2 linked regions of the Homo sapiens genome follow. The protein of the gene in region 1 purifies or fractionates together with the protein of each later gene. This does not show direct contact. Each region holds a gene or a part of one and is shown in the gene's direction. Other genes may lie near its edges.

Region 1 (4,207 bases):
TAAATCTCTGCCCTCACAATAACTAGCACTAGTCACACATAAGAGAAACTCGGTGACTCCAGGGACTGCCTTAGGAGAAAGTTTCTGGAAGTTCTGACATTCCAGAAACTTTCTCCTAAGGCAGTCCCTGGGAGTCACTGAGTCAGTCCATTTCCGTTATTTTTTTGGAGGCAGCCCTAACTCCACAGATGTATTCCACTATCAGATACACCAGATGTTTATACAAAAATGTTTTCGTGATATTTTAATCGTCTTAATAGCCTTTCAACAGGTTCTCATGGTTCTTAGAAGACAAATTCTTTACTATGGCCTAGTAATCCAGTTGGTCCCAGCTCATTTCCCACCCTCACTTAGGATGTTCTGGCCACATCTGCCCTCTAGCTGATCCTTGAACACCCTAGGCTTACTCCATCCTCGGGTCATATTTCCCTCCAACTGGAATGCCCCTCTCACATCCTAACAGGCTAGGCTCAAACACCGCCTCCTAAGACAGCCCTTGTCTTGAGTCCTCTGCTTCTCCCAGTACTCCACTGTATTCATAGCATAGCACTTCCCCACCACCCCAAATTCTCCCTGCTTTCTTTCCAAGTGAGTTGTCTCCTCTAGACTGTGAGCTTCTTGAGAACAGGGACTGTGTCTGCTTCTAGATGCATCCCCACTGCCTAGAACCGTGTCTGACACAGAGCAAGCCAGCGACCTCCGGGCTGCGGCTTTGAGGCCCACGGCGCTTTCGGTGTAACTGCGCGAACCAACTCCTGAACAGCCCGCTTTCCTGGGTCTCGAGGCCAAGGGCCTCTTTTCTCCCAGAGGGCCTCCGTCGGGAGTGCTGGCCGCTCATCCTGCCGAGTCACAGGTGAGGTTTAGGATTCTCCGCCGCGGTGGACCTCCACGAGACCGCGAAGCAGGTGAACGTCCTCCCGCGGAACCTGAGCTGCCAAGGGCTGGGGAGGGGAACAGAAGCTGGCGTCGGCTGCCTCCAGAACCTGTCAGGAGTCTTTTATGTGGACTATGGAGGTGAGGTGTCGGTCAAGGAGGTGGGCCCTGACTCGGAGCAGTGAGAGAGAGCAGAAAACCAGTCACCGCAAAACGGCTTCCAAAGAACCAACTGGAAAACTCACCGGAAAGCGTAGGCTGCCCAGACGCCCCGAGGGACCAAAGCTGAAGGGAGGAGCCCTCGTAAGCAGACAAGAGTGCGCGCGTCGAGCTTGCGCAGCCGCAGTAGAAGCCGCACGCTCTTCGGCAGGCTGCGCAACCGCAGTGGAGGCCTCGTGTGCCCGGGGTGGGGCACGAAACTGGGCGGAGCTAGGCCCCCTCGCGCGCTGACGCGACTGGTCGCGGCGGAAGGGTGTAAGCACGCAGGCGCGATGGTGGCTCGGGGGGGCAGGGAGGCGGGGCCGCGCAGGCGCTGTGAGAGGCGGTAGCGGCGGCGGCGGCGGTGGTATCGGCGGCAGCTGTGAGGGGGTTCCGGGAAGATGGTGCTGATCAAGGAATTGTGAGTGGGTCTGTGGGCGCGAGCGAGGCCGTGGGACGGCAGTGATGGGAGATTTGTTGATGGAGAAGTGGTAGGATATTCCTAAATCGGAGTCAGCCCTGTGTCAGCCCCTCCCTGCGGGCGCCCCCTCCCTCCCCCGGCCCCTTCGAAGCCCCTCAGCGAGTGCGCCCCTCGGCCCTCCAGGCATTGCCGTGGTAACACGCCCTCTCCCTTCCCCGGGGCGAAGGCGGCTGGGTCCCGGCCCGAGCGCATGGCTCGGGAAGGCGCGGCCGGGAGTTTCCGCTGGGACCCGCCTTCTCCCCAACCCCCCACCCCCAGGCTGGGTCTGGGCCCACCCCCAGGCCCGCCGGTGGGAAGGAGCCGCAGTCCGAGGGTGGGAGAGACACGTTGGTTCTGACTGTGATTTGTCGTCCGGGGTGGAGTCCCCTGGTAACCAGCGGGAGATGGGCTTGCCGGTTGAAGGCAGCCCTCGTGTCAGGACTCGCGGTGGGACGCTGGCGCCTTGAAGTTCGTGGTGGAGCCGGGATTCCGGAAAGCCTCCGCTCTCCTGGGCAGCTCCGCTGACTTGACGGGAGAGCCTTTTCTCTTTTTGGTTTCCGCATGTTTTAAGATGAGGTGACATCCCGGGCCCCACCTACTTTCTTAGAAGTTAACACGTGCTCTGTCAAATGGAGGGATTTCGAGGTGCATCCGACTGGCCAAGTGATTTTGTTGAAAAGTCACGGCTTTTCCTACTGGCAAGGACTGTAAACATTACGGAAATCTGCTTGCCTCTGAATGTTCGTCTGTCACAGCTGGTTCGTGTCGTCAGCATCCTTTGGGCAGCTAGGGAGGTCGAGTATGGCCCATTCGTTGGTTTTCAAATTCTTCATTTTAAATTCTTAGAAATATTTTTGGCTTAATTTAGCTTTTTTCAGACACCTTATTTTTAGTGTTCTTAAACCTCCTTTAAAAAGTCACTGATGCACTTCTCTGAGACTTAATACCTCCCAAAGACTCCCTGTCTCACCCAGAATAAAAGTCAAAGCCTCTGCAACAGCTACAAGGCTTTACACTTTTTTTTCCTGCCCTGATCTCATTTACTACCTTTTCCTTGCCCATTCCATCTTCGCAAGCTTCCTTGCTGTTCCTCTGCTACTCTAGAATAAGTTCAGTTCAAGACCTTTCCACCTGCTTTTGTTCCCTTTGCTTGAAGTGTTCTTCCCTTGGCACACTAACTCACCTTCTTCCAGGTCTTTGCTCAGACGTCACCTTCTCAGGGAATCCCTTTCTGAAGACCTAATTGTAGTTCCCACTATTTGGGGTGGTATTTGTCTTCCCTGCTTTATCGGTCTCCATAGTACTTATCACCATCCAACATGCCAATACAATTTATTATTATTATTTTTCTCCTACTAGTTGTGTTCTCTTTTTACATGTAAGGGCCATGAGTTTGTTTTGCTCACTCTCATATCCCCAGTTTTTAGAATAGTCCCTCGCATGTAATAGGTGCTCAGTAAATATTTGTTAATGAATTGATGAAAAATGATAACTTTGGTCAGTGACAGGGATTTTGAGAAGAGACATTTTGCCTTTTTTTGGTAGAGTGAAAATTCTCAATTAAAGCTTATTTATAGTACTGAATATTGGGTTTATATAAAACTTTTCTTCCAAGTCGTTTATACAGTGTATCAAACAAGTGTTCATTACTCTGACTTCTAGATGATGTGGGTAGATGGGTGGCAGACACTAAAACAAATGGAGAAAATAAGAAGGAAATTGACTTGGACCAAGTTACACAGCAAGTGAGTTGCAGAACTGATTTTAAATAGATCCAGTCATTTTTCTTTCATTGGAGTATTTCCTCCCTCCAAAAGTGTTACAGACACACAGTATTCAGTAGATCCCTTTGACAGTATGTGAGTAGTATGAAGCTAACTCTTGGAAAGCAGTTCCTATTGGGAATTTGCGCACTGTGCTTTTTGCAAACATTTGCTTTCATTATGAAGATTTAAATGTACCCAGATAATGAATGTTGACACGTGCCCAAAGTCTAATTATTTTTCCCAAAGAGTTATAAATTAAGTTTCTTGATGTTAACTCTTCATGTGTATCTCCCCTAGATTTTTTTTCCTCCTAGACTTTTTGAAGGTAGAAGCTGTTTCTTAAGTAATGTCGGTATCTAGCACAGCATCTAGGCCTAACATGCTCTAAAGAATTCAGTGTTGTTCAATGAAAAATTGATACTTCTTACTCTCAAGTCAACTTTCTAAAATTCTTGTTGGTTAGGAGCAATGAATAGCTTATTCCTATGTGAAGATATTGGTAACTAAAATACTTTGGCAAATGTTTGTTGTCTTATAAAATTCTTTTTTATTTTTATGTTTTTTTTTTGAGGCGGAGTCTCTGTTGCCCAGGCTGGAGTGCAGTGGCATGATCTCTGCTCACTGCAACCTCCGCCTCCCAGGTTCAAGCGATTTTCCTGCCTCAGCCTCCCAAGTAGCTGGGACTACAGGCGCACGCCACCATGACCGGCTAAATTTTTTGTATTTTTAGTAGAGACAGGGTTTCACCCTGCTGGCCAGGCTGGTCTGGAACTCATGACCTCAGGTGATCCGCCCACTAAGTGCTGGGATTACAGGTGTGAGTCACCGCACCTGGCCCTCTATTTATTTTTTTATAAGAATTAAAATGTTAGAAATGACTTTCGAGGTGGGCTGTTTCCCTTCAAGTTAT
Region 2 (4,019 bases), on another chromosome or scaffold:
TGGGGCCCCCTTTGTGGTCAGGCGCCTTTTGCTAGACATTTACTTCAAAAAGGTTCAGATTCTTGAAAAAAATCGGGCTTAAGGAGGAAGCTTCCATCTGTGTGGGTTCCTCCATGAGGCATGCCTGACCTCCTTTTTGTAGCGAGAGCCTTACTCTATAGGCTTGGAGCAACTCATTTCCCCACAAATACTGCTTTGGCTACAACCCATTGATCTTGATATGTAGTATCTGTTTTTTCTTTCTTTTTTTTTTTTTCTTTTTTCTTTTTTGAGACGGAGTCTCCCTCTGTCGTCCAGGCTGGAGTGCAGTGGCGCGATCTTGGCTCACTGCAAGCTCTGCCTCCCCGGTTCATGCCATTCTCCTGCCTCAGCCTCCTGAGTAGCTGGGACTACAGGTGCCCGCCACCACGCCCTGCTAATTTTTTGTATTTTTAGTAGAGACAGGGTTTCACCCTGTTGGCCAGGATGGTTTTGATCTCCTGACCTCGTGATCCGCCCGTCTCGGCCTCCCAAAGTGCTGGGACTACAGGCGCGAGCCACCGTGGCTGGCCTGTAGTATCTATTTTTTCATTGAAAACACTGTTTTAACAGCCTAGATGTATGCCTACCTGTTATTAGAAGAATAAGCTTAATATTCCAAGTGTCTAGGTTTCTTTAGTCATAGCTTGTTATTCCCAATTTTATTACATTTTGCTTGAGAGGTCCTGGTACATACAGGTAATTACATACAGGTAATTGTTTTTGCATTTACTTTCCTCATGGCCTTGTGTTTGATTAGTTATGACAAAAGGCACCCACACTTTTTATGAGTTATTTCCGGAACTCACAATTTAGGATGGTCTAACATAGAATCTCGGTTGTTTTTTTTGTTTGTTTTTTGGGGTTTTTCTTGAGATGGAGTCTAACTCTGTCGCCCAGGCTGGAGTGCAGTGGTGCAATCTTGGCTCACTGTTACTTCCGCCTGCTTGATTCAAGTGATTCTCCTTCCTCAGCCACCCAAGCTGGGCAGTCACCACCATACCCGGCTAATTTTTGTGTTTTTAGTAGAGATCAGGTTTCACCATGTTGGCCAGGCTGGTCTTGAACTCCTGACCTCAAGTGATCTGCCCACCTCGGCCTCCCAAAGTGCTGGGATTACAGGTGTGAGCCACCGTCCCTGGCTGGAATGTCAGTTTTTAATGTTCTTATAGGATATTAATGTTTTGGGCCTGTCTTTGGGAGTCCAGTACTTATGACTGTTCAAGGGCTACAGCCAGTGTGAAAACTCTGATACCGTGCCCGTCATCAGCATATCCAGCAGCAGGAGGGTTGTGGGAGGGGTGGTGGCGCGGCTTCCTCTCATGCAGATCTGGAAACAGGTATGCTCGTTCGCTACACTGAAGGGGGGGCCCTAACTTTGAATATATTTCAAAGGATTGTCAATCAAAGGATTTGGGAGCAGTAAGGGGTATTGGTGACTGCTGTACGGAAGATTGCTCAGAAAAAAGAAAGACTTTGTTGAACTAGACAGCTCATATTTTAGGTCATCTCAGCCAATCTGGTTCATAAAGAAAAATTACCCCAAAGGAGCATTTATTTTAGTTGTTTTTAGCTTAAGTATTTGGTTTATGTACTTAGTCAAATTTAAAATGTTTCCTTTTCATGATGAACTTTGGCATTCTCATTGTGGGAGGTGAGTTTCTGTGCACAGAGCCCCAGTGGACAGCATTTTACCTGTAGGGAATAAAGGGGCCCAACTTTTCATTTGAGGAAAACTTTTTTGTTTGTTTGTTTCGAGATGGAGTCTCACTCTGTCGCCCAGGCTGGAGCGCAGTGGCATGATCTCGGCTCACTGTAACTTCCTCCTCCCGGGTTCAAGCAGTTCTGTGCCTCAGCCTCCCAAGTAGCTGGGATTACATGTGCCCACCACCATGCCCAGCTAATTTTTGTATTTTTAATAGAGACGAGGTTTCACCATCTTGGCCAGACTGGTCTTGAACTCCTGACCACCTGCCTTGGCCTCCCAAAGTGCTGGGATTATAGGCATGAGCCACCGCGCCCGGCTGAGGAAAACATTTTTTAAACTTAATGCCACATTGGCTTAATTTGGTAACTTAATATAGCAGCAATATCAACTTAATACGGTACCAGTATGAAACTTTCTTTTTTAGAGAGATTGTTTCCTTATCGTAGGGCATTTAGGAATCCTACTGCTTCTCCATTTCTTCAGTTTTCAGTCATATTTCTTGTGTACGTTTTGTTGATTTGTAATTCACACTACACATTTATATATATTTATTCAATAGTTTTAAAATTATTTTATATGCCTTTTATCACAATATGGTGCCATTCTTGTATGTGTTCCGTTTCAGTGGTTCATTTGTTTTCTTCTGCTTGGTTCCTTTTTTACTTTGCAAAACTTTGTTGAGCTCAGATTACACTGCAGTGGAGTAGGAGGGAATTCCCCATTCTTTCTCAAACTTAGGCTAATTTGTGCTGCTATTGTTGGGTATTTTCTTAGTATCCAGACTTTTTTTTTTTTTTCTATTTTAAAGGGATTTCTTCAAAAGTTGCCACCCCCAGAAGTTTTATATTTCTTTTTCTTTTGGCTTAAAATCATGTTCTTTTTAGAATATAAGCTGTGTCCTTGGGTTTGTGTGTATCTGAGTTCCCTGTAATATAAGTGTAGTCTATTGCAGTTGTTTTGATATTTTGTCTTTCGCAGGATGCACACGGTTGGTTTAGCCTGATATGAAGTCCACTCACTCGGTCTGTGGCCAGACCCCCCATGCCTGGCCTTTGTCTACTTCTGCAGGGTTATCTCTGATTGCAGGCACACACCTACCACATCATGTGGCATTTTACATTATTTTGTTAAATGTCTGCGTCTTCACCTAGGGACGGTCATTTAGTTCATCTGTGAATCCTTTGAATCACAGTACATAGAACATAGTAGGTGCTTAGTATATACTTGCTATGTGGACACTCAACAGAGTTGTGTTGGACTTTTCTTTCCTCAAATGTAAGAGACCAGGCAACATAATGGTTACAAATTAAGTTAGAAGATGGAGGAGTGCTCCCTCTATTGTCATTTGAGAAGCCATTTTTCCAAGCTTGGAGGGTATCTCTTTAAAAAAAATTTTTTTTTTAATTGATGTAAAGGTTTTTGAAAGCTGAGTTTTGTCTCCAGTGGATTGTAAGCTTTTGAGGCCAAGGCCATGTCTTAGTGCCACCTCTGTTTCATCTCCTTTGTCCCTACACAGGTAGTAGGTCCTCCATTCTTGCTGATTATGAATAAAGCAAAGAAATACATGTACCTCTGCTGTATGAATTAGAAGCTTTGTGTTTGTTATTATTAGACTAGGAGCATGTTACAGGCACAGAGCATATTGTGTTTATCTCTGTAGCCACAGCATGTAGTGTAGTACCTGAATTTTAGTGGGAATTTGGTAACTTCTGGTAGTTATGTTGATTAGTCTCCTTGGAAGAAAGTAACTTTATAAGCTACGGATGTTAAATGGTGAGATCATAAATTGGCTGAATCTCCAGGCATGGTGGCTCACACCTGTAATCCCAGCACTTTGGGAGGCCAAGGGTGGCGGATCACCTGAGGTCAGGAGTTTGAGACCATCCTGGCTAACGCGGTGAAACCCTGTCTCTACTAAAAATACAAAAAATTAGCCGGGCGAGGTGGCGGGCGCCTGTAGTCCCAGCTACTCCGGAGGCTGAGGCAGGAGAATGGCGTGAACCCCAGGGGGCGGAGCCTGCAGTGAGCCGAGATTGCGCCACTGCACTCCAGCCTGGGCGACAGCGAGACTCCGTCTCAAAAAAAAAAAAAAAAATTAGCCGGGCGTGGTGGCATGTGCCTGTAGTCCCAGCTACTTGGGAGGCTGAGGCAGGAGAATCGCTTGAACCCGGGAGGTGGAGGTTGCAGTGAGCCAAAATCGCACCACTGCACTCCAGCCTGGGCGACAGGGTGAGACTCTGTCTGATAGATAGATAGATAGATAGATAGATAGATAGATAGATAGATAGATAGA

Evidence for each region.
Region 2: the proteins of PITPNB (region 1) and HSDL1 purify together in Homo sapiens (affinity purification with mass spectrometry; one large-scale study listed by BioGRID and IntAct). This does not show direct contact.

Annotation. Positions count from the first base shown.
Region 1 is NC_000022.11:27,916,457-27,920,663, reverse strand, and holds the start of PITPNB (phosphatidylinositol transfer protein beta isoform), read left to right. Parts: upstream 1-1,407; 5' UTR 1,408-1,472; coding exon 1,473-1,492; exon of another isoform or gene 1,493-1,536; coding exon of another isoform or gene 1,537-1,562; intron 1,563-2,254; exon of another isoform or gene 2,255-2,269; coding exon of another isoform or gene 2,270-2,289; intron 2,290-4,207. UniProt on the Homo sapiens protein: Catalyzes the transfer of phosphatidylinositol and phosphatidylcholine between membranes. Also catalyzes the transfer of sphingomyelin.
Region 2 is NC_000016.10:84,131,484-84,135,502, reverse strand, and holds part of HSDL1 (inactive hydroxysteroid dehydrogenase-like protein 1), read left to right. Parts: intron 1-4,019.